Linked DNA regions of Homo sapiens. The protein of the gene in region 1 interacts with the protein of each later gene in a pairwise test. Each region holds a gene or a part of one and is shown in the gene's direction. Other genes may lie near its edges. The genes, in order: SH2D4A, FCHSD2, GRAMD4 and NINL.

Evidence for each region.
Region 2: the proteins of SH2D4A (region 1) and FCHSD2 interact in binary tests that used the Homo sapiens proteins (3 or more experiments, as listed by UniProt).
Region 3: the proteins of SH2D4A (region 1) and GRAMD4 interact in binary tests that used the Homo sapiens proteins (3 or more experiments, as listed by UniProt).
Region 4: the proteins of SH2D4A (region 1) and NINL interact in binary tests that used the Homo sapiens proteins (3 or more experiments, as listed by UniProt).

Annotation. Positions count from the first base shown.
Region 1 is NC_000008.11:19,358,682-19,365,705, forward strand, and holds part of SH2D4A (SH2 domain-containing protein 4A), read left to right. Parts: intron 1-2,521; coding exon 2,522-2,633; intron 2,634-5,390; coding exon 5,391-5,601; intron 5,602-7,024. UniProt on the Homo sapiens protein: Inhibits estrogen-induced cell proliferation by competing with PLCG for binding to ESR1, blocking the effect of estrogen on PLCG and repressing estrogen-induced proliferation. May play a role in T-cell development and function.
Region 2 is NC_000011.10:73,139,318-73,146,208, reverse strand, and holds the start of FCHSD2 (F-BAR and double SH3 domains protein 2), read left to right. Parts: upstream 1-3,890; 5' UTR 3,891-4,331; coding exon 4,332-4,352; intron 4,353-4,724; exon of another isoform or gene 4,725-4,988; intron 4,989-6,080; coding exon 6,081-6,178; intron 6,179-6,891. UniProt on the Homo sapiens protein: Adapter protein that plays a role in endocytosis via clathrin-coated pits. Contributes to the internalization of cell surface receptors, such as integrin ITGB1 and transferrin receptor.
Region 3 is NC_000022.11:46,665,378-46,672,401, forward strand, and holds part of GRAMD4 (GRAM domain-containing protein 4), read left to right. Parts: intron 1-237; coding exon 238-329; intron 330-1,447; coding exon 1,448-1,496; intron 1,497-2,718; coding exon 2,719-2,790; intron 2,791-3,311; coding exon 3,312-3,355; intron 3,356-3,421; coding exon 3,422-3,531; intron 3,532-7,024. UniProt on the Homo sapiens protein: Plays a role as a mediator of E2F1-induced apoptosis in the absence of p53/TP53. Plays a role as a mediator of E2F1-induced apoptosis in the absence of p53/TP53. Inhibits TLR9 response to nucelic acids and regulates TLR9-mediated innate immune response.
Region 4 is NC_000020.11:25,477,532-25,484,555, reverse strand, and holds part of NINL (ninein-like protein), read left to right. Parts: intron 1-2,455; coding exon 2,456-2,588; intron 2,589-4,288; coding exon 4,289-4,395; intron 4,396-4,902; exon of another isoform or gene 4,903-4,989; coding exon of another isoform or gene 4,990-4,992; intron 4,993-5,349; coding exon 5,350-5,633; intron 5,634-6,160; coding exon of another isoform or gene 6,161-6,361; intron 6,362-7,024. UniProt on the Homo sapiens protein: Involved in the microtubule organization in interphase cells. Overexpression induces the fragmentation of the Golgi, and causes lysosomes to disperse toward the cell periphery; it also interferes with mitotic spindle assembly.

The DNA of each region.
Region 1 (7,024 bases):
CAAAGGTGATAAAACAGAGGCATCCTCCTTTGGGGACACTTGTGAGGCTCTGATGAAGGAATTGGTGGGGAGGCATTCTAAGTGCTTCCATCAACAGGCTGGACAAGAGGCTTTCTGAACGGGCCCAGCGGCTTTCTATATGGGCCCAGCGTGCCCTTGTTTTCTGGTACTGTTAGCTGAACACATTTTCACAGCTCACACCACACATCTGGGTCTCCACACCTTCCACCCTGGGCATCTGGATTAGCATCCAGCCTCGGCCCCTCCGCCCCTCCACTCCAAGCCATCACCTGGATTTCCCCATGCCTGGCTGACAGTCCTGAGTCCTGGTCCAACATGCTTCCAGCAAAACACTGCTGAAAAGGAAATGATGGTCTTCTGAATAGAGAAAGTAAACCATTACAGATTTTGATAAAAGTAAAATTCTCTCAGAGACGCAGGACAAGTTCCTTACGTTTTCTAGCTTTCTTGAATAAATACGGTGGTCAGGGCCGTATATAGATGGGTAATAGCAGATCTCATCTGCTATTACTCTGTGAAACTCGTTAATTTTTCTTCTTTTCCACTGTGCATGTACATAATTACATGCAGATTAAAGGAGTAGATTTATTAAATATAGCTCTGTTAGACATTTGAGTAACATCAACCAAGTACTACATCTGTTATTATTAATATTTTTTCTTAGGTAGAATCATGTCATGTTCCAAATTTCTTGCTTATCCTCAGCAACAATATCCATGATGATCATAGCTTGATGTTTTCACTATATGTTTCCTAACCGTTTAAAAATAAACACGTATGCATGTGGAAGGATGAACAAAGCTCCACTTTGAAGCTTTTTCTGTTTAAGCTTAGAAATTGCTAGCAGCACATGTATCTATCTTGGGCTGGCAAACAGCTTCAATCAAAGGATGGCAAATTTTAACAGTCCTTTCAAACATCAAAGCTGTCCTTTGGATTTTCAAATGTTGGCAAACAAAAGGAGCTTAGCTCTAGGCAGGAAAACAGTGTAAGGAAAAAAAAATGAAAACAGTAAATGCACAGAAGTTTAGTTACATCTGCAGTGAAGCACAATTTATGAATGATGATTACTTGAACTGTGATTTATGACTGCCCAGAGCGATCAGAAACAAGTTTCACAATATTAATGTTTATACTTTACGTTGTGGTGACATAATAGCAAGGAAGTCTTTACATTTCTGTGGGAAAGCACAAAATTAAAAAGCTTGTCACTTGTGATAGAGAGGTGGGCACAGGCAGCCCTTTCTGGCCATTTCAGTTTGTTTTATTGCTTAGCTAACCAAGGCTTTTATTAGTCCACCAAACTGTAAATTCAGTCGTCTTGTGAGCACTCAGAAGGTTGTGTCCAAATAAGCAAAGTACTTTTCAGGTCTAAGTGATTTGGTTTGTTCATTTCTCTTTCGTTTAAAATGATTTCCGTTGAATGCTCTTAATGCCAGAAAACAGTACACTAAAAAATGGTTAAGGTGGTAAATTTTGTTATGTGGAATTTTACCCTAAGTTTTAAAAACCTAATTCTCCTTTTAAAGGAATATTTACATTTTGAAAGTATTTCTCCCTTCTCAAAAGATGCTTTTGAAAAATATTTTTCTGTTTTTTTTTTTTTTTGAAACAAAAAAATACATATTCTGGCAGGGTGTGGTGGCTCATGCCTGTAATCACAGCACTTTGGGAGGCTGAGGCAGTGGATCACTTGAGGTCAGAAGTTCGAGACCAGCCTGGCCAACATGGTGAAACTCCATCTCTTCAAAAAATACAAAAATTACCCAAGTGTGATGGCACTTGCCTGTAATCCCAGCTACTCAGGAGGCTGAGGCAGGAGAATCGCTTGAACCTGGGAGGCAGAGGTTACAGTGAGCCGAGATTATACCACTGTACTCCAGCCTGGGCGAAGGAGTGAGGCTCCATCTTAAAAAAATAATAATGATATATATTTCTTTTGAAACACTTAAAATCATGTAGTAAGTACCACATTTTGGGACACATGACTCGGGGGAGAGATTCAGCTGAGATTGCTCTGGGAATGTGCATTTCTTCTGTGGAGTCTGTCAGCTACTGTAAAGTAGGTTGATGCTAGTTCTATGTAATAGTGTGTTTACATCCTTCAGGGAGTCAGTTTGAAGCAGCTAAGTACTGTGTCTGAGGAAAAGGAATATTTTTTCTTACTATATGTTATACACTGTGCCAGGGACTTCTTAAGTTATCTAATCCTCAATATAACCCTAAGAAATATTTTTTTCTCATCTTTCTTATGGGGAAACAGCCCAAGAGAGGTTCATTTGTTGCTCCTGGAGTTACACACTAGCTAGCAATGGTCAGTCTTACTTCAGGTCTTACTGACTCCAAAGTCCACACTTGATCCTTCCTAGTGGGCCAGAGAGTTAGATAGAAGTCAGCTGTGCCGGGTACCCCGTCCTTCAGGAAACTGCTGGATTTGCTCACCAAGGTTCTTTTTTTGTTTTGTTTTGTTTTTGTTTTTTTTTGTTTTGTTTTTAAACAGAAGAAAGAATCTATGAAGAAAAAACAAGATGAAGAAATAAATCAAATAGAAGAAGAGAGAACGAAGCAGATTTGTAAGAGCTGGAAAGAAGACTCGGAATGGCAGGCATCTCGTGAGTACCCAGAGGTCTCCATAGCACCTTCCAGGCTCTCAGCTGATTCTCTCCCTTAATAATGTGATCAATCTAGAAAGCGCTTAATGTGGGTTGTTGAGAGATATGTTCACAGTAAGTTACCACTCAAATGTTATTACTAACTTATTACTCAAATGCTTACAGGCTACTTTTGAACAGCAGACTCGTTCTCCATTTATTTCTGTATCACCAAAATTATGATGTAATTTATCAAATAGCATGATATATAGCTATGGAAAATAGGTTTTGGAGAGTGTTTAATGATCTTAGACTGTTTATATCTCATTAGCTTGGGGAAGAAAAAACACCATGAAATAGAATGAAAAGCTTCGCTATTTAGAAATGTCTAAGTATCTGAAGGAAAAGAACTGGAAGGTTATAATAACATGTAAACATTAGTTTTCTTGGAAAGGTGAGATTCAAGATTATTTATTTGAATGTTTTTCTTGTAATTTAATATTGTGTTTTGGATTTTTTTTCCCCTAAATTTTTGATAGTGAATACATTTTAACTTTGTAATCAGAAGCACACAGGAATACCAGGCTGGATGTGTTAGCATCCCGCTCCTGCCTGTGACCCAGCCTTGACTCCTATTTGAGTGAGCAGAATGGGTGAGAAAACTCATAGGAGAAGAATAAGCCCATGCAACTGAAGGCAGAGGAGAGGATGCTCCAGAATGCTAGAAGAATTAGGTTTGTGAAAGAATTAGTGTTTCCATCTGACTCAGAGAAATCTGAACTGCTAGATCAACCTGAGGTGGCTTGAGGAAGACAGCAGGTATGGCTATATTTGCAGGATGTTGAGATCCTACATTGATCTGCAGTCCCATTACAACCAATGCCATTTAAATGACAACTACTGTGAAATGAAAATATTTGCAAGATCCAGTAGGCTCTTTGTACTATGCACTGAAATCCTAGCATAAGGGAATATTTTGGGTGTCTCTTTGAAGTCAAGTATAACAGGATTTGACCAATACTGCCTGAAGTGTAAATATAGTCAATAAAAATCATTTTTACATTCTGCATTTGAGTCTCATTGCTATAACAAAAAATTCTGTTTTACAAAGTAGTCATGCGCTGTATGATGTTTTGGTCAACGATGGGTCGCATATAGTTTTTAGGCCAGGCACTGTGTCTCACTCCTGTAATCCCAGCCTTTTGGGAGGCCAAGGTGGGTGGATCACTTCAGGTCATGAGTTCAAGACCAGCCTGGCCAACATGGTGAAACTCCATCTCTACTAAAAATACAAAAATTAGCTGGTTGTGGTGGCGTACACCTGTAGTCCCAGCTACTCAGGAGGCTGAGGCAGGAGAATTGCTTGAACCAGGGAGGCGGAGGTTGCAGTGAGCCGAGATCGTACCACTGCACTTCAGCCTGGGCAATGTAGCAAGACTGAGTCTCAAAAACAAAACAAAACAAAACAAAAAAAACACAGACACACACATACAGAAAACCAAAAAATAATAATAAAACCCCAAAATAATGGGTTGCATACATTTTTAAAATAAATTTTATAAATGTAGTGTAGCCTAAGTGTAAAGTGTTTACAAAGTCAACATCAGTGTGTAGTAATGTCCTAGGTCTTAACATTCACTGAGCACTCACTCACTGACTCATCCCAGAGCAACTTCCAGTCCTGCAAGCTCCATTCATGGTAAGTGCCTTATGTAGAGGCACCATTTTTTTTTGTCCTCTATACCATATTTTTACTATACCTTTGCTATGTTGGGGGTATTGATTATTTTTATTTTTTTGAGATGGAGTTTCGCTCTTGTCACCCAGGCTGGAGTGCGATGGTGTGATCTCAGTTCACTGCAACCTCCGCCTCCTGGTTTCAAGGGATTCTCCCGCCTCAGCCTCCCCAGTAGCTAGGATTACAGGCGCCTGCCACCATGCTCAGCTAATTTTTTGTATTTGTAGTAGAGTTGGGGTTTCACCATGTTGGCCAGGCTAGTCTCAAGCTCCTGACCTCAGGTGACCCACCGACCTTGGCCTCTCAAAGTGCAGGTATTACAGGTATGAGCCACTGTGCCCGGCCTTATGTTGGGGGTATTTAGACACACAAATACTCTTGTGTTACAGTTGCCTTATGATGCATTTCTCAGGATTTATTTCTCTCATTAAGTCACTAGTGACTGTAATATTAAAAGGCAGACTTGGGGTACTTTTTTGTGTACTAATGTGTCCTACAATTACCTGTGGTTAAGCATCCCTTTAATTTTTTGTCTGTCAGGTTGCTTCTCATTCTGTCCTGCTCTCTGCTCCTTCACCCTATGCACAGCCCCATGCCACTGAGTAGTCCTGATCTCTGCTAGTGAGTCAAGCACACTGCATCTGAACATAAGTCATGCAGGGCGTGACAATTGCCTCTTATTACTCAGCACCCCTGCCAGCTTGAACCCATGCTCAGGCGGGGGATCCTCACTTGGTCTTGCCAACTGCAGGAAATTCTTGCACACTTTCTCTACTTCTCTCTCATCCCTTCTTCCTCCTCTTCCTTTTCTCTCCCTCTCAGAAAACCCCCAGTCCTGTATGAAGAGAGGAATCCTGCAGCGAACGCTGGGCAAGCCCTAATGGCCTGGATCATAGGTGTTGATAATGATTGTTCCTTATTATAAGCAGACAACAAACTGCTGAGAACCTGCGCTGCTGCCCGTTGTGCAATGAATGCTGAGCCTTCTCACCTGCTCTGTGGGCTGATGAGGGTTTTCTCCGACCCCGTTGTTTTTCCAGTGCGAAAATCCAAAGCAGCTGATGAGAAGAGACGCTCCTTGGCTAAACAAGCACGAGAAGACTACAAGAGGTTATCCCTCGGGGCCCAGAAAGGAAGAGGCGGTGAGAGGCTGCAAAGCCCCTTGCGTGTTCCGCAGAAACCAGAAAGACCTCCCCTTCCACCCAAGCCTCAGTTCCTAAACTCAGGGGCATATCCTCAAAAACCTCTTAGGTAAGAAGCCACACAGATGGGTTTATGCATAAACATTGCAATGGGCTTTGAATAAGCGTTGAAATTAAAGGGGAATTGTATGAGCTGCCATGGGGTGTGGAGGGCCAACTGGCAGCCTGTGTAAGTAGCTCAGGTTCATGTCTAAGCCTTCTTCCTGGGTGATCTGGGCGGGCATTCCTCCCTTTTTTAGCTGTCAAATGTCCATAGCTGTTATACTTAGTATACCCAGTGAAATAGTAAAGCTGTGCATGGAATGAGAGAACTTCCCGTGTCCCTACCCCACTCTCCCCTTTCCCTCCCCCGCCCCCCTCCCCCCCAGAGGCAGCCGGTGAGCCAGTGAGGGGAGAAGAGGAAACAAGTGGGGTTTCACTGATGCCCAAGATCACCCTTAGTCAAAGATTATCAAAGTAGGAACCCAAAGGCTTGCTGACTTTCGTGTGATCAGTGGGAGTACATTTTCACTGCCAAGGATTAAAGGTTTGATGGTAATTCTCATTCACGGATACATAGCCAAGTTCCTCTTTTAAGAATTTGGAAAGCCTCCTTTTTTAGATGAATTGTCTATTTGGTGGTGGAGATACCATTGTCTGCTAGGCTGTGGAAGAATTAGGAAGAACCATTTGTTCTGGAAAAACTGTAGAAAAGTGCAATGATGCTATTAAACCCCCATCCCTTATGTTTGCTGATTCTAAATTTTTTTCTGGTTATTGATCTTATTTTTAACATCCTAGTATTTAGAAAGAAGTATTAAAATCAAATGTTGATTGAAAGAAACAGAATTGTCTAAAGCCTTGCATTCTGAAATAAAAACTAAAAATAATTTGAAATACTTCTCTAAGATTATGGAGAAATGAAAAATAAGACTCTTCTCCTGCTTGGAGTCGTAGTTATCTTCAAGGTTGTCTTTAAACAGGAGTGATGACCTCAGGGGAAACACAAAGGCGGATGTTTTTCTTTGCTGTAATTATTTCTACTTACTCTACTGGAAAGTTCCGTTTCGGGAAGTGGGGACCAACGTGGAACTCAGTGGAGTAAGTGGAAATAATTACAGTAAAGACCATGATCTCCAAAGTGATCGTTTGGGTAATGATTCTTCTCTTACCGACAACAAAGCAAGAAATGTAGTCAGGAAATAGGAGTCTCTTAATTGTGAGAACAGCTGACAAAGGTGCACACGGCTCTAAGTGCTGGAGCTTGTCTGTCCGCACGTTGGCGACAGAGCCTCAGCAGGGATGTTTTTGCAGCTAACTCCTGTTCACCGTCTCTTCCAAAGGTAGCATGGAAATGACTTGTAGATGTCCCTGTCCCACAGCATTTTGAAGGACAGTATATTTGATTGACAGCAATGAAGGTGGTCTTTAAAAAAGGGCAATTCCTATTTTCAGCTGTGCTCAGTTAGCTCATTTTTTCCAACTGAAGACAC
Region 2 (6,891 bases), on another chromosome or scaffold:
GCCGCTGTATACTTTGTCTCCCTGCCAGTTTTCCCAGGAGCCCTGGAATATCAGAACAGCTGATCTTCTGATACCCATTCATATACCTGCTCCAGGCCAGTTTTTGATCCTAGCTCTGACTTAACCTTAGAATCATATTCCTAATGAAATGGGAGACTGCACTGCAGCATGCTGGAGGGAGAGCACAGCTTCAGAGCCAGGGGCCAGCCCTCCCTTTCCTTCACTAGCTGTGTGACCTTGGGTAGGTCATTTCACTTCTGAGCTGCAGCCTGTGCAATGGGGTTATATGTATTATGAGGAGTTGTTGTGAATGTTGGAAACAATGTAAATAACACGCCTATTTTAATGTCTGGAACATGGAAGAGGCAAAATAAATGGCAGCTGTTATTAATTTCTTTTCAGAGTGAGATCCCATCTGTGGTCTCCTTGATGGAAGGGAGCCAGAACCTGTTTGCACAGCCCCAGGGACAGGGAGCTCACTCCTTCCAGGGGTAGCTCTGCCTGGAAAAGTTCCTTCCTGAGATGCAGCTAACACCTGTCCCAGTTTTGTCTCTGGGGCCATAGTGCCTGCTGCTCTGCACCATTTCCCCAAAGAATCTCAAGCAATGCTACTGGCAACACAGCGCTTGCCTGCATTGCAGGAGCAAGGCTCTGGAAGTCCCCAACCCTGTTCAAAATGGTACATTTCAAGTCAGGCTTACATAAGTCACAGAAATCCCTTCCCTGGTCCCCTAGAGTCTGGAACATAATGGATTGTATCCTCCTGGGTCTGCTTATTTTCCTGCGTTAGGAACTCTCCCAATTCCTTTGAACATTCTTCATACACGAACATTCCTCATCGGACAACTGGGTTATGGTCTGAAGTCTATCATGTCAGGGCAAGTCACTTATCCCCACTGAGCCTCCAGTTCTCCATCAGTAAAAATGAAGAAACGAATACTATCTCATGGGTAAAGATTAGCTTGGAAAAGTAATATGAAAGTTTAGGGTTTGGAAGAGACACTTGGTAAGTATTAAAACAATTTTTTTAAATCACAGTTTTGAAATAGGAGTTAGTAGGTAAGCCCATCTGGTATTGCCCTTAGCTCTTTATAACACTTCCAAAGGAAATCATTCCAGAAAGTCAGTGCCACTCCTGGCTTCAGAACGGTGGCAAATCAGGTAGAGGATGCCCTCCTATATGCATAAACGAAATCCCCAGGGTCTGACTTCTTCTGTGAAGAGCCTCCTAAGTTCTAGGCTCACTCACTTATCTTATTCTGCAGGCCAGCACCAAGGCCCAGAGAAGACCCACTAGATCCATGGTAGAGGCTGGATCCCATGTCTCCCAACATCCAGCACCATTATACCCCAGTGCTCACTTCCTAAGAAGAGAGGTGAAGGGAGGATAATCTCTGGGCCAGACCAGTTGCACCCAAGACTAGGATTCAGCAAATCTTTGTTAAGCACTTGTTATGTGCATGACACTGCATCCGGGCCAAGTACTGTGTTACTCCTCTTCCACTAGCCCAGTGTCATTCAAGGAATGGTTGGTCTGGAACTCAGTCTTGGCGAAGGCTGATTCTATCTTGCTCATCTCTAGAACCCCAGTGCCTGGCACAGGCTTGGAACAAAGCAGGACTTTAGCAAGTATTTTTTGAATGAATGATGAATCAATAAGCACTTATTTTATTTTTTATTTTTTATTTTTTTTTGAGACGGAGTTTCGTTCTGTCCCCCAGGCTGGAGTGCAGTGGTGCCATCTCTGCTCACTGCAAGCTCCACCTCCCGGGTTCACGCTATTCTCCTGCCTCAGCCTCCTGAGTAGCTGGGACTACAGGCACCCGCCATCACGTCTGGCTAATTTTTTGTATTTTTAGTAGAGACGGGGTTTCACCGTGTTAGCCAGGATGGCCTCGATCTCTTGACCTTGTGATCTGGCCACCTCGGCCTCCCAAAGTGCTGGGATTACAGGCGTGAGCCACCGCGCCTGGCCTCAATAAGCACTTATTAAGCACTACATGCCAGGCCCTGTGGTAGGAGAAATTCTATTTAATACAGTAAGCCTATGAGGCTAGCATTATACCTCCATTTTACAAGTGAGGAAACAAGGCTGAAATAAGTGAATTGACTAGCTCAACGCTTCACAATAAATTGGTGGTGGAGCTGAGACTGGAGCCCAGCCTACGCTACCTATGGCCTGGGCTCTAGCTGCCACCCCGCAGCTGTCAGGGCCCTGGGCCTCCATCCACCTGTCCCCTTGCCCCAGGCCTTCCCTGATTTGATTAAGGATTCTGGTGAAGGGCTAACTTTTGAAGCCAGAAAAAGCAAGACTAGTCTCCTAGTTCATACACAGCTCTAGATTAATCTTATTCAAAACACAGCTCTGTCACTTTTCTGTACAAGAATCTAGTCTAACTCAATGTAAACAACCTGGGTTGAAGTTCCACCTTTTCAATTTCTGGTCATGTGGTCATCTGGGAAGTTACTCGTCTATCCAGGCCTCATTCACCTTCCTCTTAGGCCTGACTGCACTTCTGAGAACAGCTGTCTGGGATCTCAACTTCTGAAAAAACGGTGGAGTAATCCAGCTCAGCCTCCACACAGCCCCGTGACTCAAAAAAAAAAAAAAAACCTCCCTGGGCATGGGGAAGAGGTATTCCTCTTCTGAGGACCCCAAGGGAGGTCGATAAACTCCCCCGTAGATGGTCTGAACAGAGCAGGAAGGTTCATGTGTGGTGGTGGGGTGCACTGCTTAGATAAGCACCCTCACTGGCAGATAAGGAAGCCGAGCTCACCTAGCCTGTTAAGGAGCAGGCAAAGTGGACTGGCACCCAGAGATCCTGACTCCCAGACAAGGGCTTCCTCTATGGCCTCTCCTGCCTCTTCTACTTTTCCTCGTGCTTATTATCCTGCACCTGTTTCTTTTTTAAAATAACCCATAGAACACTTCCTGACGCAGATTCTAGTCCTGCTGTGTAACCTTTAGAAAGGCTTCCCTCTATGGGCACTTGCCTCCCCGTCTGTGAAACGGGGGCCTCGGCCTTAACGTTCTCTTGGCTCCCTCTCAGCGGAGTCAGTGATGTTTGACTTGAATGCCCTGCAGTAGAGTGCCGCCGTTTCCTTTGCAGAGCAACTGCCTTTCCGCCCTACAATCGCAATGGCCTGGCACCTGCGGCCAGCCGCAAAGCGACTTGTCCTTGCTCGCCTCTCTCGCGCACATCTAGCTGGTAGGGAGAGTAGGGTGTTGAGGGGCTGAGAGGAAGAAAACGCCGGAATTCTCGTATCCCACAGGCATGCTGCGCCCCCCTCCCCACTGCAAACGTTTCCCTGCGAGCGTCGTCCCCCGCGCCCCCCGACACACACACACACACACACACACACACACACACACACACACACACACACACACACACACGCAAAGGCAGGCAGGAGGCGGGGGCGGCCTGTGCGCGTGCGTCGGCGCGGAGCCCTCTCCCGCCCACGTGCGCGCCCCCGAGCGGAGACGCGCGCGCCGGGGCGAGCTGGCGGGAAAGCGCGCGGGAAGCCCCCGGCTGGCTCCCAGCGTGGGGGAGGGAGGGCAGGAGGCGTCTGGAACGTGCCACTCTCGGAGAGAAAGGGGGGATTTTCGCGTGGCGCTGGCGTTTCTACACCTCCCACCCACCGACCAATCCGTTAGCTTCCCCCTTCCCCTGCCGCGGTACGAAGCCCCGTGCCGTGGCCTAGCTCCCTCCTGGCAGCCCGGACCGGCCCCTCGAACCCCGCTCTGGACAGAGCGGTTCCCTCAGCATCCGGAGCGGGGCGCTGCGCCGCGCGGCGAGGCCGGAAATTCCCGCGGCCTGAGTGGTGGAGCCCTAGCGGGGAGAGCGGCGCCACCTTCCTCCTCCCGGGCGGGCGGGGGCGTTAGGCCCAGCGAGGGCCGGGCCGCCTGAGTGGGTGGGGTGGGGGCCGCTGCGTCCGCCGGGAGCGGCGGCGCAGGCGGCCGACCGGGAGCGCGGACAACGCGGCTGCGGCTAACCCGCCGCCCGGCCGGCTGAGACCCTCGCGCCCCTGCTCCTGGGGCCCCCGCCCCCTCGCCGTCTCCGCCTCCTTCCTCACACACCCCCGGGCCGCCCGGGCCGCCCGGGCCCCAAGCCTTCCCGGTGCTCCTCCCTCGTCTCCTCACACTCGCTCTCTGGCTGGGGTCCGCCTGCCGCCCGCTGGCCTGCTCCCTCCGGGGCAAGTCTTGCTTCTTAAGCGCTCCTTTCACACACGCGCGCGCTCGCTGGGCCGTCCCCTCCTCTCCGGCCCTCCTCCTCCTCCTGGTCCTTGCTAACGCTGCCGTCGGGGAGGATTGATGTCCCTTCAGCATCATGCAGCCGCCGCCGAGGAAGGTAAGGGCGCAGCTGGGGGGCTTTGGGGTTCGGAGAGATGCGTACGCGGAACGCGGCTGGGGCGACCGCTGCGCCCCTTCCCCCTCCCGCAAGGGGCCGTGACCGCCCTCGTCTTGGGCTTGTCACCGACTTGCCGCCGGCTCCAGGTGGGGGGCGCGCGTGTGAGTTGCCTTTCCGACAGAGGGGCCGCCGGGGCTCGTCCGTCCTCTAACGCAGGAGACCCCCAGACATTTCACAAGAGTTTCGGGTGTGCATTTGTGTGTGTGCGCGCGCATGGCAATGCTGCCCGCTGCAAAGTGCATTCTCGGGGCTGCACCGAGGGGGAGGCGGGGACGCCCCTGCAGCTTTGCAGAGCCTTGTGCGTGTGTGATTGTTTAGTCTGCACCAGCTTTGAGCCCTCCAGCCGCTTGTCGCCAGCCCCGCCCGTTTGCAAATTTGCGGGGGATTTGTTTCTAGCCTAGCCTTAGGGTTTGGCCTGCTTTTCCCACGGGGCGGCCGAAAAGAAGTTGGAATAGTCACCGCCTCCCCACCCCAAGGGAAAACAAATTAAGGATTGACGGGTCCTGCCTCGTCCCCGGCTGAGGGGCGAGGAGGCTGTCGTGCTGTCTTCAGAAAAGCGAGGACCGGGCCCGGGAGGTGCGTGGGGTGTGCACTGCGATCCGGGGTTGGATGACCAGGGTGGGAGTGACGGATGCACCCGGCTTGTCATCAGTCTCCCCGCTGCGCCCTTCCCCAGCTTTCCCAGGGGCCGAGGCTGTGTCCTTGTCTTTTTAATCCTACAGATGGATACTGAATGTCTACTCTGGGCACTGGGTGGATGAGGCCGTTCTGTCCTCCCCTCGTGGGCAAACATTTGCCTAACGCCTAACTCACCCGTGTCTGCTGCCGCTGCTTTCTCTCTTTCCTAATCCGGGTTTCTCCATTTAAGTGAGTCCTTTTCTTTCGAACATGTACCCCCACCCCTCCGGGTGGTCCCACTGCTGAGGCCGAGATTCCAGACTGACCGTTAACTTCGAACCCTGGGGCCCCGGCCTGGCGGGCGAGGCTCTCTGGCCAGCAGGCATTTGCTGTTCTCCGCTGTTTGAAGTGGAGCCTCCACGGGGATCGGCTTCCCGGGGTAGTTTAAAAGCACTGCATATGCTGGAAGGTCACTTTTGCTTTCTCCTTTGTGAGAAAGAGATTGTGATTTGATGCGCTGTCAGCAAGTCGAGGGCATCATTCTGAGACAGTGTGCTTTTTCGCAGCCATTATGGAGTAATTTATGTAGTCGATTCAGGCATATTATCATGATTGTGTAAATATTGGTCATTGGGTATCAGGCACTCTTAGGCTCCCAGCCCCCATCCACACTCTGCTCACCTCTCCTGGTGGTTAATGTCTTTGAATCTTTTTTAGAAATAGAAGACAGGCTCTTTTAAAACTGTAGGAAGACCTAGACGTGGATTGAGCTTGTGCATGAAATGGAATGACTGGCAGTTTATTTTGCACGTCTTTAGTTTGTAATATTTATAGTCGTGTATTTTCATTTAACCTCTGTTCAGGCTATTTGGCTTTAATTTTTCATTAAATAAGTATCTTCAATAAATAAAACTAGATGGCGAATATTGGATTTATGGCCTTCAGGGGAGAGGCGAGCAAGAGACATATTCTGACAGATGTATTTTCCTGAAGCAATTTTTTTGGGTTAAATTTGTAAAAAGACCTTCATAAATATATGGTATATTTTAGGTGAAAGTTACACAAGAACTGAAAAACATTCAAGTTGAGCAGATGACAAAACTTCAAGCCAAACATCAAGCAGAATGTGATTTGCTTGAAGATATGAGGTAAGGCTATAGTAAATAGTTCAAGGACTTCTGTTTGTCTGTTTCAAAGAACCTTTGAGTTACCAAGCCCCAGGAACTGATGATGGAATTTCCTTTTGGATTTCCTGCTTTAAGGCTGTTAGAACTTTGACTCAGCTGGAAATTAGAACTGGAACTAACACAATACAAACTTTTTCCTTCAGTGGGGGACCTATAATGCACACATAGTATTCAGAAAAAACAAGGACCTTAAAAGTCTTACTAGTCAAATTATAATAATTAAAGATTCTTGTTTAAATAATCTTTCCACGGAATTGTAACAATCATTTTATTGACCTTAACGGTTTTACACAGTTAGATTTTTAAACCAACACTTGTGGTTAATGGTTAATATCTGGGGGTGAGCCAGTCAACCCCAGATGGTTATATGCTCTCACTGGGTTAGAACATGACAAATACAACTTTGTTTTTGAGTGCCAAATTTAGTGAGAAGTGTGTTTATCATATTTTATTTTATTATTGAGGTTACTCATATTCATAATCAAGTTAACTTTGAATAGCTAAGACATCTTGCTAATATTGTGAAAATCAGTATCTTTCTTACTAGAGGGATGGATGACTTATTTTAATGAAAGAAATACCACTTATTTAACAATCTTGTAATACAGACTGACAGTTCAACAAAGATTTTCGTCAAGAATGGAAGATGATTTGCATGGTGAAGCAAGAGTGGC
Region 3 (7,024 bases), on another chromosome or scaffold:
TCCCCAGGACACGCTTCTCCCTAGGTGTCTCCTGGCTTCCACCGGCGGCTCTTAAACCGGGGAAGCAGCCCTTCCTCCGGCTTCCCCATCAGACGCACCCTCATCCCTGAGTGTCTGGAGAGCCAGCGGGTGGCCTGGTCTCCCCACTGGGGCCGCCTGGTGGGGGGAGGCGGGAGGGATGTGCCTTGTCCTGATCCAAGCTGTCAGGAGGTCTGACGCCCTGTCTCTCACCCGCAGGTGTACATGAATGCCGTGTGGCATGGCTGGGCCATCCCATTGTTCTTATTTCTAGCAATTCTGAGGTTATCCCTCAATTACCTCATCGCCAGGTAGGTGAGCCGGTTTGTTGCAGCTGCTTTATCCCACCGCATGTATGGCTGTGCTGTCTCCCTGCGTCTCACAACCGTGACCCCAGCTGGGTATGTCATGCACTGACGTTTTGGGGGTGGTCCCCTGACAGGCTCCAGAGACCCCCCAGGCAGGGCGGCTGCCCCCTCCCTGGTTTGCTAGAGATGGCAGTGGGAAGTTCCCAAATCCCCCAGCAGCTCCTTCCCCGGGCGGCCAGCAGAGCCAGGGCCGTTCCAGCACCTGCCCGAACATCGCAGGGGGCTTCTCCCCAACATCAGTGGGTAGGTGGGTGAAGCAAACAGGGCTCCACGCCCCGGAAGGTTCCTGCTGGCTGCCTGTTGGAGATGAGCCTGCTGGGGAGGAGCTGGACCGGGAATGAGTACCAGTCGCCTGCAGACAGCACGCCCGTGTGACTGACGCGTTAACCCCAACCCTGGCCTGAGTCAGGGCTCTCGTGTCACCCCTTATGCCCCCTCTGAGCACCCCCTCCCTGTGGAGGCTGAGGGGGGCTCTGGGAAGCCCATGCCCTGGGGTGGACCCCTAGTCCCTGCACTCCTGGGTCCTTCTTAGCCTGCGGTTACCCCTGGAGTGAACCTCAGCCTTGCACCGAGGCTCAGGGAAGAGCTGTGATTCTGTACTTTGACTTGGCCGTTCAAAAGTTTGCACTTTTATGCACCAGTGTTTCCAGATGGTTCTCTGTGCCTGCCCCAGTTGGCTCATTTGAAAATGTTTTTTGTAGAAATCACTTAAATACTCTGGAAGGTGTCGTTGGTACCCAGAGCTAGGTCAGGATCAGCTTGGACACTTGCTGATGCCACTTTGGATGTTGAAGGGCCGCCCTCTCCCACACCGCTGGCCACTTTTAAATATGTCCCCTCTGCCCAGAAGGGCCCCAGAGGAGGGGCTGGTGAGGGTGACAGGAGTTGACTGCTCTCACAGCAGGGGGTTCCGGAGGGACCTTTTCTCCCCATTGGGCAGCATAGAAGGACCTAGAAGGGCCCCCTCCAAGCCCAGCTGGGCGTGCAGGGCCAGCGATTCGATGCCTTCCCCTGACTCAGGTGGCGCTGTCCTAAAGGTGTGTGTGTTTTCTGTTCGCCAGGGGGTGGCGGATACAGTGGAGCATCGTGCCCGAAGTGTCTGAGCCCGTGGTAAGTCCCTGGAGGGTGCACGGTCTCCTCCGACTGTCTCCATCACGTCAGGCCTCACAGCCTGTAGGCACCGCTCGGGGAAGCCTCTGGATGAGGCCATGTGGTCATCCCCCTGGAGTCCTGGCCTGGCCTGAAGAGGAGGGGAGGAGGAGGCCAGCCCCTCCCTAGCCCCAAGGCCTGCGAGGCTGCAAGCCCGGCCCCACATTCTAGTCCAGGCTTGGCTGTGCAAGAAGCAGATTGCCTGGCCCTGGCCAGGCTTCCCAGCTAGGATGTGGTATGGCAGGGGTGGGGGACATTGAGGGGCTGCTGTAGCCCCCACAACCTCCCCAGGTAGGGTGGTGAACAGTAGGCTGGACAAGTGGACCTGTTCCCATCTGAGATTCAAGAGCCCACCTCTCGGAGGTTGCAGTGAGCCGAGATCCCTCCACTGCACTCCAGCCTGGGCAACAGAGCAAGACTCTGTCTCAAAAAAACAGAACAACGACAACAAAAAACCCACCTCTGGCCCACTGCCTAACTTTGTAAATAAAGTTTTATTGGCACATAGACACACCCATTCATTTACATACTGCTGCGGCTGCTTTTGCATTACCCTTGAGTAGACGACAGACCACGTGGCCATGGAAGCCAAAAATATTTACTGTCTGGCCCTTTACAGAAGTCTGCTCTAGAGGGAGACCCCGGCCCATGGGGCAGGACCACTGGGCGTGGGCAGAAGGGAGGCCTCGGTGCCTCCACGGGCCTAGTTGGGTATCTCAGTGCCTGTTTCTTGCATGGAGCACCAGGGGTCAGGGCAAGTACCTGGAGGAGGCAGGCTGTTGCCCGCCCAGCACTGGGACCCAGGAGACCTTGAGAGGCTCTTAACGAATGGGAGACAAGCAGGACCAGGGCTCCCATTGGCTGGGCCTCAGTTTCCCTGCCTGTAAGTGAGGGAGGGCAGCTGTGAAGGTGAACTGTGAGGCAGAGCCTCTGCTCAGCCATTGCAGGGGCGGCTCTGCCCCACTCCTGTTGTGCACCCAGAGTGAGGGGCACGGGGTGAGATGTCACCATCAGCCCATAGGGGTGTCCTCCTGGTGCCAGGTCCCCAAGGGATGTCCCATCCCCCCTGGCTGTGTGGGGACAGCAGAGTCCCTGGGGCTGGGAGGGCTCCACACTGTTTTGTCAGTGGTTTTTCTGAACTGTTAAATTTCAGTGGAAAATTCTCTTTCCCCTTTTACTGAAGGAACCTCCAAAGGAAGACCTGACTGTGTCTGAGAAGTTCCAGCTGGTGCTGGACGTCGCCCAGAAAGCCCAGGTACTGCCACGGGCGCCGGCCAGGGGTGTGTCTGCGCCAGCCATGGGCACCAGCCAGGGGTGTGTCTACGCCGGCCAGGGGTAGGTCTCCGCCGGCCTCCGCTGCTGCCTGGGGAGGGCCGTGCCTGACACTGCAGGCCCGGTTTGTCCGCGGTCAGCTGACTTGTAGTCACCCTGCCCTTGGATGGTCGTTACAGCAACTCTGGTGGTTGGGGAAGGGGCCTCCTGATTCAGCCTCTGCGGACGGTGCGCGAGGGTGGAGCTCCCCTCCCTCCCCACCGCCCCTGGCCAGGGTTGAACGCCCCTGGGAAGGACTCAGGCCCGGGTCTGCTGTTGCTGTGAGCGTGGCCACCTCTGCCCTAGACCAGAGCTGGGCCTTCCCCGGCCTAGGAGCAGCCGGGCAGGACCACAGGGCTCCGAGTGACCTCAGGGCTGCCCGACCTGGAGGCCCTCCTGGCGTCGCGGTGTGACTGACAGCCCAGGAGCGGGGGCTGTTGTAATTGCTGTTTCTCCTTCACACAGAACCTTTTCGGGAAGATGGCTGACATCCTGGAGAAGATCAAGAAGTAAGTCCCGCCCCCCACCCCGGCCCTGCGGCGCCCGCCCGGCCTGAGCCTCCCGTCTCCTTCCAGCTTGTTCATGTGGGTCCAGCCGGAGATCACACAGAAGCTGTATGTGGCGCTCTGGGCTGCCTTCCTGGCCTCCTGCTTCTTCCCCTACCGCCTGGTGGGGCTTGCCGTGGGTAAGTAGATGCACCTGCGGCCTGTAGCTTCAGGAGGAGGGACACAGGTGTCCGCATGCCACCAGTGTCTGCCAGGTGTCTGCAAGAGCTGTTAAACTCACCTGGCGATCCTTCCTCTGCTTTTTGTCACAAATGTTTCAATTTGGGAGAAGTGAAGCCCATCCGAGATCGAGGGACACGGTGATTGTTTCTTAAATCAAGAAGCCCTCCACTTCCAAGGCCCCCATGTCTCCTGCAAAGTGGGAGGAGCTGGAAGACCCAAGACCCAGGATAGCAGGACTTGGGGTGTCAGGGAATTGCCCTGGGCAGGACATGCCTCTTGGGGCGCCTGTGGGCTTAGGGGTGACAGTCATGGAGAGCCTGAGAGCCTGGTTTGATGTGCAGGGAGGTTGGTTGTAGCTGATGAGTTTGGTGACATCACGTGAAGCCAAGGGTCTCATCCACTAAAACACTCATCTGCAGAGCTGGCGGCGGGGAAGGAGGGTGGCTGGCGGTGAGGACCGGGCTGTGCCGGGAGGTGGGTGGGGTGTGGTGGCCCCCCCTCACCCCAGGAGGCGCTCATCCACTGCTGCCCAGCATGCTCTCTTCCCTCCTTTCTCTTTTCTTTTTTCTTGCTTCCCTCCTTTATCTTTGTCTTTCTCCTTTTCTTTGTTTTTGTCTCTCTCTCTCTCTTTTTTTTTTTTTGGAGACGGAGTGTCGCTCTGTCGCCCAGGCTGGAGTGCAGTGGCGTGATCTCGGCTCACTGCAACCTCCGCCTCCCGGGTTCAAGTGATTCTCCTGCCTCAGCCTCCCAAGTAGCTGGGACTACAGGCACCCGCCACCACGCCCAGCTAATTTTTTTTGTATTTTTAGTAGAGACGGGGTTTCACCTTATTGGCTAGGCTGGTCTGGAACTCCTGACCTCAGGCGATCTGCCCACCTCGGCCTCCCAAAGTGCTGGGATTACAGGCGGGAGCCACTGCGACTGGTCTCTTCTGTTTTGTTTTGTCTTGTCTTGTTTCTTTTCTTTTCTTTCTCTTTTCCTCAATAACAACGATCCAGTGTCTGACATGGGCCACACACTGGCATGTGGGAGCGAGGCCGCCAGGGTCCTGTCCTTGAGGGGCAGGTGGGACTCGCCTGAGCCCACGCAGGACAGCGTGTGCGGCTGTAGGAGCCACAAAGCCAGGGGTGGGGAGAGCTCCGTGCCGGAGTCGGGAGGTCAGACCCCGGCCCCTCAGCAGTCTAGGCTTGGCGTGCTGCGCAGAGGAGCAGTGGGGGCTGTGTCTGTGTGGAAGAGCAGATGCCCCCTGCCACGTTTCCTGAATGCCTTTACCATAACGCAAGCCCGACCCTAGCCCTGACCCAGCGTAACTGCTGGTGGGAGGACAGGCCTCTCTGGACGCAGCACGGCTGAGCTGTCCAACAGCAGCTCACTGTGGCCATCAGGTGGCATCACCAGGAGTGGGCAGAGCCAGATCTGATCAGACCCTTACCCCGACAATGCCCTGGAGCCCCTCTGGCTAGCACCCAGGACTCTAGGCTCATGAATGGGTAGGTGACCACTGTGACCTCCTGTTGGACCCCTAGGCCTGGGTCCAGGTGCCGAGGCTCCAGAGCTGCAGTGCACTTGCGGCCCTGGACAGCTCCGGGGCAGGCCGCCCTCCACGGGGAGCCTGGGGGTGTGCACCTGGGTCTTGGTGTCCTGCATCTGCCCTGCTGTCCTTTTTTTTCAAGACAGCGTCTCAGTCTGTCTCACCCAGGCTGGAGTGCAGTGGCACGATCTCGGCTCACTGCAACCTCCATCCCCTGAGTTTAAGTGATTGTCCTGCCTCAGCCTCGGGAGTAGCTGGGATTACAGGGGTGCACCACCACACTCAGCTAATTTTTGTATTTTTAATAGAGACGAGGTTTCACCATGTTGGCCAGGCTGGTATTGAACCCCTGACATCATGATCCGCCCGCTCGGCCTCCCAAAGTGCTAGGATTCCAGGCGTGAGCCACTGCGCCCGGCCCCTGCTGTCCTTTTTTGTGACACCCAGTGTGGTTTGGGTTCTCACAACCACCCTGAGATCACCACTGCCACTGGGCAGCGGTGACCCTGCCAGGTGTGGGCCAAGATGGCATTCCTGGCTTATCGGTGCCCATGTATTCTTTTGCAGTGCTGACAAGGGACCTCAGCTTAGAGGGGCAGAGGCTGCCTGCTCCAAGCAAGGATGGCCCCAGCTGGGACTTGGGCTCTCTTGAGCTGAGCTGTCCCTCCTGGGTCGGCCACCACGTGGAGGAGGCCTGGGAGCTCAGTCCAGTCAGCCAAGGGGGTGGTCCTGGCCCTGCCCCTCCTCACACCTAGCATCTTTCAAGAATCAACAAGTTGTCCGGACACGGTGGCTCACGCCTGTAATCCCAGCACTTTGGAAGGCCGAGGCGGGTGAATCACTTGAGGTCAGGAGTTCGAGACCAGCCCAGCCAACATGGTGAAACCCCGTCTCTACCAAAAATACAAAATGTAGCCGCGTGTGGAGCTTGCAGTGAGCTGAGATCGCGCCACTGCACTCCAGCCTGGGCGACAGAGCAAGACTCTGTCTCAAATAAAAAAATTAAAATTAAAATTAAAAAAAATTAGCCAGGCATGGTGGCAGGCGCCTGTAGTCCCAGCTACTCAGGGGGCTGAAGCAGGAGAATGGCGTGAACCCGGGAGGCGGAGCTGGCAGTGAGCCAAGATCATGTTGCTGCACTCCTGCCTGGGCGACAGAGCAAGACTCCGTCTCAAAAATAAAATAAAATAAAATAAAATAAAATAAAATAAAAAATTTAGCCGGGTGTGGTGGTAGGCTCCCAGCTACTCGAGAGGCTGAGGCAGGAGAATCGCTTGAACCCGGGAGGTTGCAGTGAGCTGAGATCAAGCCATTGCACTCCAGCCTGGGCAACAGAGCAAGACTCTGTCTCAAAAAAAAGAATCAACAAGTTGAGAATTGGGGTCAAAAAGTCTGACTTGATTGATGAATTTCTGTGAAAATGTCCTACAAAGGCAAAAAATGAAACAAAGGCACAGCTTTATCAGTCCCTTTATAGCACAGATAGTACATGGAACTCTGACCCTGGGGCCCCTGCAGGGAGGGCCTGCCACGTCTGGTCTGGTCTGGCGGGCTGTGCACTGGGGGCAGCGAGACAGCCCCCAGCACTGGGAGGGGCACCCGGAGAGACCGGAACTCCTGACAGCTTTTGCTGCCCAGGGGGGTGCGTTAGCAGGTGTGTGGGGGCCGGCCCCGCCTCCCATCCCTGCATCTGTTGCCAGGTGGGGTCCTGGGGCGCAGTCAGGCCTGGCTCTTCTGAGGTCGTGTTTAGTAGGGGGACTGACCATGATTGTGTCAGGTGACAGTATCGGGGAGAAAACGGAGCTGGTGGAGGGGAACTTGCGAGGGCGTGGCTGGGAGCCGTCTGAGCAGCTGGTCATGGGCGGCCTCTCAGCAGGGATGGGCTGGGCGTGGGGGGGCACCCAGTTGAAGAAGGGCAG
Region 4 (7,024 bases), on another chromosome or scaffold:
AAGTGAGAGTCCTCGGCTGCTTGCTGTGCCGCGGCATGCCCCGCAGTGTTGGCTGCTGCCTTGTTTTGTCAAATGTTTCCACACTTGCTGGCATAATGAGATGCCCCAGCACCTGCCCACAATCTGCCATTTCTCCAAGGAGTCTTGGTTCCTTTCCTGAGGGAATGGTTTTAGAGACAGGATCTGGGTGCCTGGCATGCTGCTCGCTCCTAGGGGTCGCTGTGTCTTGACTGAGGGCATCTTTCTGGTCGGTCTCCAGATTCCAGAAGGATCACCCTGAGCCCTCCCCACTGTATGTCACCTGATCTCTGCAAACTCACTTTTGGGGTTTCTTTGTATTTTGTAACAAGGATATTGGTGTTTTTAAAAACTTTTTTTCTTTCAACTTTTATTTTAGATTTGGGGGTACCTGTGCAGGTTTGTTACCTGGGTATATTGCATGATGTGCCGTGTGGGCTGGGGCCTCCCTTCTCCATCTGGGCCTCTCCACGTGGCCTCTGCAGGGCTACTTTGGGCTTCATCACAGCATGGTGGCGGCAGCTGCCCCAGAGCAAATGTCCCAGCAGAAGTGGGTGGATGTCGTGTTCCTGGAAGTCCCGTGGCATCACTTCTGCTGTCTCCTAGGTCGAAGCAGTCACAAGTCCCACTCAGGCTGCAGGGCTGGGGACCGAGGCCCCAGCCACGTGTGAATGGGGAAGCATGCACAGCCTGGTTTATGTCTGCTTCCTGAAGGTCTGCAGGACCCTGGGAGGTGTCTAAGAAAGTGGGCTAGAAACTCTGCCCTTCCTGTCCCTTTAAAGAGCAAGTGACTGAGCATACTGGTTAGGACGTAGTTCATTAAAGTGGGAGCACAATTAAGCTGGCCACAAATGCAGATGCCTCCCCTGAAGCTTCCACCCACCCTGCCATGGTGTCCTAGCCTTCCCGCCGCCCACGCGGCCTCCACCTGCTCCAGTGTCTCCTTACCAACATCATCCTTTCTTTCTGACATGTTCTCTGCTTTGCAGCATATGATCTGAAGCAAATGGTTTCCTCTTTGGTAGTTAAAGCTGCAGAACCCTTTGCAAATTCAGTGGCCGCTGAGGAAGGAATCCTATCCTTACCCAGGGCACTGCCTGACATGCACATTGCAGCACCACTGCAGTTCCAACAAAGACTGTAGTTTCTGGTGGTGACAGTATTCTGCATTTTCTTTTCTTTTCTTTTCTTTTTTTTTTTTTGTTGAGACAGAGTCTTGTTCTGTCACCAGGCTGGAGTGGAGTGGCACAATCTCGGCTCACTGCAACCTCTGCCTCCTGGGTTCAAGCGATTCTCCTGCCTCAGCCTCCTGAGTAGCTGGGATTACAGGTGCCCACCACCACGCCTGGCTAGTTTTTGTATTTTTAGTAGAGACCGGGGTTTCGCCATGTTGGCCAGGATGGTCTCGATCTCTTGACCTCGTGATCTGCCCACCTCAGCCTCCCAAAGTGCTGGGATTACAGGCATGAGCCACCACACCTGGCCTCTTTTCTTTATTTATTTTTTTCTTGAGATGGAGTTTGCTCTTTTTGCTCAGGCTGGAGTGCAATGAATGGCATGATCTTGGCTCACTGCAATCTCTGCCTCCTGGGTTCAAGCGACTCTCCTGCCTCAGCCTCCCAAGTAGCTGAGATTACAGGCGCATGCCACCATGCCCGGCTAATTTTTGTATTTTTAGTAGAGATGGAGTTTCACCATGTTGACCAGGCTGGTCTCAAACTCCTGACCTCAGGTGATCTGCTCATCTGGGCCTCCCAGAATGTTGGGATTACAGGCGTGAGCCACCATGCCCGGCCATACTCTGCATTTTCTACATTTCTCCCCAGGAGCTGCCTCACTTTTTTCTTTGAGCCCCTCCCATATAACAGTGATAGAAAGTGATGTAAGGGCCAGGCATGGTGGCTCACGCCTGTAACCCCAGCACTTTGGGAGGCTGAGATGGGTATATCACTTGAGGCCAGGAGTTCGAGACCAGCCTGGCCAACATGGTGAAACCCCATCTCTACTAAAAATAGAAAAATAAATAAATTAATTAACCAGGCGTAGTGGCGCACACCTGTAATCCCAGCTACTTGGGAGGCAGAGGCAGGAGAATCACTTGAACCTGGGAGAAGGAGGCTGAAGTGAGCTGAGATTGCACCAGTGCACTCCAGCCTGGGCAAGAGAGCAAGATTCTGTCTCTAAATAAATAAAATACAGTAAAAATAAAAGTTTTTAAAAGTGAGAAAGTCAAGAAAGGACCTTTGTTTTGGCTTATCTCACCATGATGTTAGCGACTTAAAATCCAGATGGTTTCCTGCTGGAAGCTGGGAAGCAACAGGCCCTCACCTCACAGTGCACCTCACCTGCAAGGGACCCCCCTGGAGGCCAGCTCGGCCAGCTCGCTGGGCTGAATGGCTGCAGCTGCTAGAGGAGGTGGCTGGCTCTGTCCCCACAGGACCTGCAGGACCGCAACGATGAGCTGCAAGCTGAGCTGGAAGGCCTGTGGGCGCGGCTGCCCAAGAACCGGCACAGCCCCTCATGGAGCCCGGATGGGCGCAGACGGCAGCTCCCTGGACTCGGCCCAGCAGGTAGGAGCCCGTCCCTGGGAGGGGGCTGACCCAAGGCCTGCTGTTGACAACAAGGCCCAGAGCCAGGAAAAGAGAGTGGAGATGATGAAGATGATGATGTTGCTGTGACCTGAAGGGAGGTGGTCTGCTCTGCAGGGACTTTCCAAGGAGGATCCAGGGATGCCACAGGGTGACCTTGCAACACGGAAGGTCACCTGCAGAGGGAGGAGGAAGGGACGCTGAAGGTGGGCAGCCCCAGGGCTGGCCCAGGCTGTTCCCACATCTCAGAGCTGTTTCAGTGACACGGTACTTGCTGAGACTGAGAAGAGCTAAATCCCGGAGAATGCATTGGGGCCTCCCAGTACTCAGGCCTGTTCAGACAGAGGCTGTCGGGGCTTACCCTTGCTGCTTCTGGGTGATGTGGTAGCTGGCACCACCCCCCAAGTCTGACTGAGGCAGGGAGGCACCAAGCACTAAGGGAGCGGCCCCACCTGGCCAACTGCCCCTGTGCTCGCAGCCAATGGGATTAGGACAAGCTCCAAGGACCCAGGGTCCCCGGAACCCACATCGAAGTGTCTCTGGCTCCTCTGCAGAGAGAATGGGGGTCCAGGTGCTGCAGCCGCCCTTGAGGTCTGTGGTGCTCCCTTTGGAGGATGGGGTGGCCTCTGCCCACTCAATAGCAGCATACAATGCACATGGCTCCGTGTCCACTGCTGTGACAGGGGCCCATGGGGACCCAGCAGCCCCACCTGCTCCCCTCGCTCCCCCGTCATGGCAACCTCAGCCCCTCAGAGAAGATTTTGCTGCCATCTGTAACCCCGGGAGAACTTCAGAGTTCTCCTGTTGCCCTGAAACTGTTTACTCAATGAAATAAAAAAAAATAGGCCAATATGGGAACCTCATAGGGGAGCCTAGTCGGGGCTTTTGTGCATGTGAGACTGACCTCCTGGGACCCCTAAGGCACCCCCTCCCCTGCTGGCTCCTGGATTGGAGTCAGGCTCCTGAGGCGCCACCCCAACAGCTGGCAGACTCTCAGGAAGCTGCAGGGAGGTGCAAGACCCCACCGGCCACCCATCCCAGAAACGCACATATCCAGGATTGCCTGCACCCAGGGTGGTGCCTGTGGGTCCGTAGCCCCATTGACGTCCCACCTGGATGCCGCTGGCTGTCACACCTCCCTGCCCGTCAGTCTCAGAGCGCTAATTCCAGCAGGGGTTAGTGTGCCAGAACTGCCTCTCAGAACTTGGCATCGTTTATGTGATGAAATAATAATGTAGGGCCACCAAGGAAAGGTTATCTAAATAGATAGATAACCTCCGTGCACACAGCTGTGGTCATCGGCACATCATCTAAAGCTCTGCACCACCGGGCATCTGCTGTGCCACAGGCCATTATGTCCTTCCATTTCCTCCGTGACCCTGGCATCTTCAGGGAACAGGATTTAGGGTGCAGTAAATGTACCATAGCACAGCATATTTTAGGGACTAAAGGGGCTCCTGTGAATCATGTGGGGAGCCACCTAGTCTCATCTCTGAGTGTTCTGATAAATAACGGAATGCTATGTACTGACGAGTGCTGACTTTAAGGACGCAGCGTCATCCTCACAGCCAGCACCACCTGCCCCTCATGGATGCCAATGCCAAAATATCAGATTGGAAGGTTTGGAAGGGGCCCCCGTGGCATCCTCAGTGTGACAAACGGAAGTGGCCTCTTGTTTGCAGGCATTTCATTCCTGGGTAATTCTGCTCCAGTGAGTATAGAAACGGAGCTGATGATGGAGCAGGTAAAGGAGCATTACCAAGACCTCAGGACCCAGCTGGAGACCAAGGTGAGGGGATTATGGGGCTGTGGGGCCCTGGGGGAGTAGCTGCTGTGTGTTGGGCAGCTTTACTTGGGCACGCTGACATTTCCACATGCGTCTGCCCTGGAATCCTTTGTCTCATTGTGAGCCCCTTTGGGGAGGAAAGTTTGTAGAGAAATGCAATAAAACTGACATGCTGCCCAAACCCTCTTTGGAAGGACACAGGACATAGGATGACTGATGGGGAGGGAATGGTGTGATACTCTGGAGTGTCACAAGGGGATACTTGAGGCAGCGCAGCGCCGTGGCCAGCCCTCCTTGCTGGTCTGTGGGTGGGAATCAGTTACTGGCTGTGCTCCAAGCCTGAGCGACCTGGCATTTGCCCCCTGGGTAGCTCAGTGGCTTTGAGGCCAGGGCCACCCTGGATGAAACTGTCAGGATGAACTTAGCCCTGTTCTGTTCCTAGACTGTGGTGGCTTTTGAGGGACAGTGTCCATGACTTGTTGTGTGTCCAGTTCCTCCGTCAGGGTACCAGCTAGGTGGAGCTGCCTGTGGCCATGCCCTGGGGATCCCTGAAGGATTAACTGGAAGCTCCGGCGAGCCCTGCCCACCCATAGTTGAATGGTATTCCTTCCACTGAGGGCCTCCACGCTGTTCAGAGCCACCCCGAGGTCCTGTAAAGATTCCACCCTCTGCGTCCCTTGCAGTGCTTGGCCAAATGCTCCAGTGAGCCCCGAGCTTCCTGCCTGTCTTGCCTGCCGCCCTGCCTCAGGGGGGATAGGTGACTCACACCTCACTAGGCCCTGGGGAGCACCACCAACATTCATGTCACTGTCCCCTTCTGCACACCCTGGCACCTCGGCAGGCCAGGATGCCGGTCTTTGCACGTTGTGCCAGGCAGCTTCGTGTTTCTGTGTTACGTCAGCAGCAAGATCATTCTTAGGGTCTCCTGGTCCACGGGGCTCATGTTTCTCGTTTTAGGTAAATTACTACGAAAGGGAAATTGCGGCACTGAAAAGGAACTTTGAGAAGGAGAGGAAGGACATGGAGCAGGCTCGCAGGCGCGAGGTCAGCGTGCTGGAGGGTCAGAAGGCCGACCTGGAGGAGCTCCACGAGAAGTCTCAGGAGGTCATCTGGGGCCTGCAGGAGCAGCTGCAGGACACAGCCCGCGGCCCCGAGCCTGAGCAGATGGGCCTGGCACCCTGCTGCACCCAGGCACTGTGTGGCCTGGCCCTGCGGCATCACAGCCACCTGCAGCAGATCAGGTCCAGCCAGCTTCTTTTGAGATTTCAAGTCTGGGGTTTCTTGCCAAGAACCAAAATTTGAAATTAGACTTAGGAAACAACTCAGAATTGCTGTGCCTCCCGACTGGGTGGTTTTCCTCTGGGCAGATGGGTGAGTGCCAAAAGAACAGGTCCTGGCATGAGGATTCTGGCTCTGAATTTAAAATATACATTGGATCATGGGCCATGAAGCTGTTCACTGTGTAGAAACAGCCCAGTGTTCTGTACCCTCTGCCTCAGCCGTGCCCGGCAGCAACATTGCCTCCATCGCTCAGAGACACCCGCTTCTCCAGGGCCAGGCAGGGTAGCATGTGGGGAGATGGAGAAAGGCCTGAAGCCCTGAACAATGGGAAAGATGGCCAGCTGGGGTTAGTGAGGTTCCCAAAAAGGCTCAAGTGTGCAAGCGAGAGAGAAGGCTTACAGAAAGCCTGTGCTGGTGTTTTATGTGTTCTGGTGTGAGGTACATGTGAAGTGACCACGTCTGTTCTTGTTGGGGGCATCTGAGGTAGGAGAGGAAGTGCCTGGTCATCGCAGACAGGCTGCTGCTCAGCTGGCACCCACTGTCCTGTGGAGAGCATTGGCCCCGGCTTAGAAGAGGACGGGCCCTCCCACCACACTGGCCAGGCCACCCCCAGCCTGACAGAAAGTCATCTTTCCGGCCGGATGCGGTGGCTCACACCTGTAATCAGCACTTTGGGAGGCCAAGGCGGGTAAATCACTTGAGCTCAGGAGTTCGAGACCAGCCTGGCCAACATGGTGAAACCCTGTCTCTACTAAAAACACAAAAAATTAGCTGAGCATGGTAGCAGGCGCCTGTAATCCCAGCTACTCGGGAAGCTGAGGCAGGAGAATCACTTGAATTCAGGAGGCGGAGGTTGCAGTGAGCCGAGATCTCGCCATTGCACTCCAGCCTGAGCCACAAAGTGAGACTCGTCTAAAAAAAAAAAAAAGTGAGACTCGTCTCAAAAAAAAAAAAAAGTCGTCTGTCCATCCTGTGCCTCCCCAGGCTTTCAGCTATTTCCCCTTAAAGCCAAGAGCGTGTGGTAAGAGATTGGGTCAGAGTCCCTGCAGACCCCAGTGGGAACAGAGGGGCAGGCACAAGCAGCCCCTCTCCTCTCAGCATCCAGGCCCTTGTGCACCTGGCCCCCACCCGGAGCTGTCTCTAGCAGCCTGCTCCTGGGGAGCTGCTGTCCCCGCTCTGCAGGGCTCCCGATCTGCCAATGCTTGGAGGTGGAGGCCCTCCAACCACTTCCTTGCTCCCCTTGCCCTGGCCAGGCATGGACCACATACCCCTTCTGGTGCTGTGGTCTTGCCAGCTCTCACTTCACTTCCACTGGACTCTCCTGCGGGCCACCAGAGGTCCCAAGGCCCAG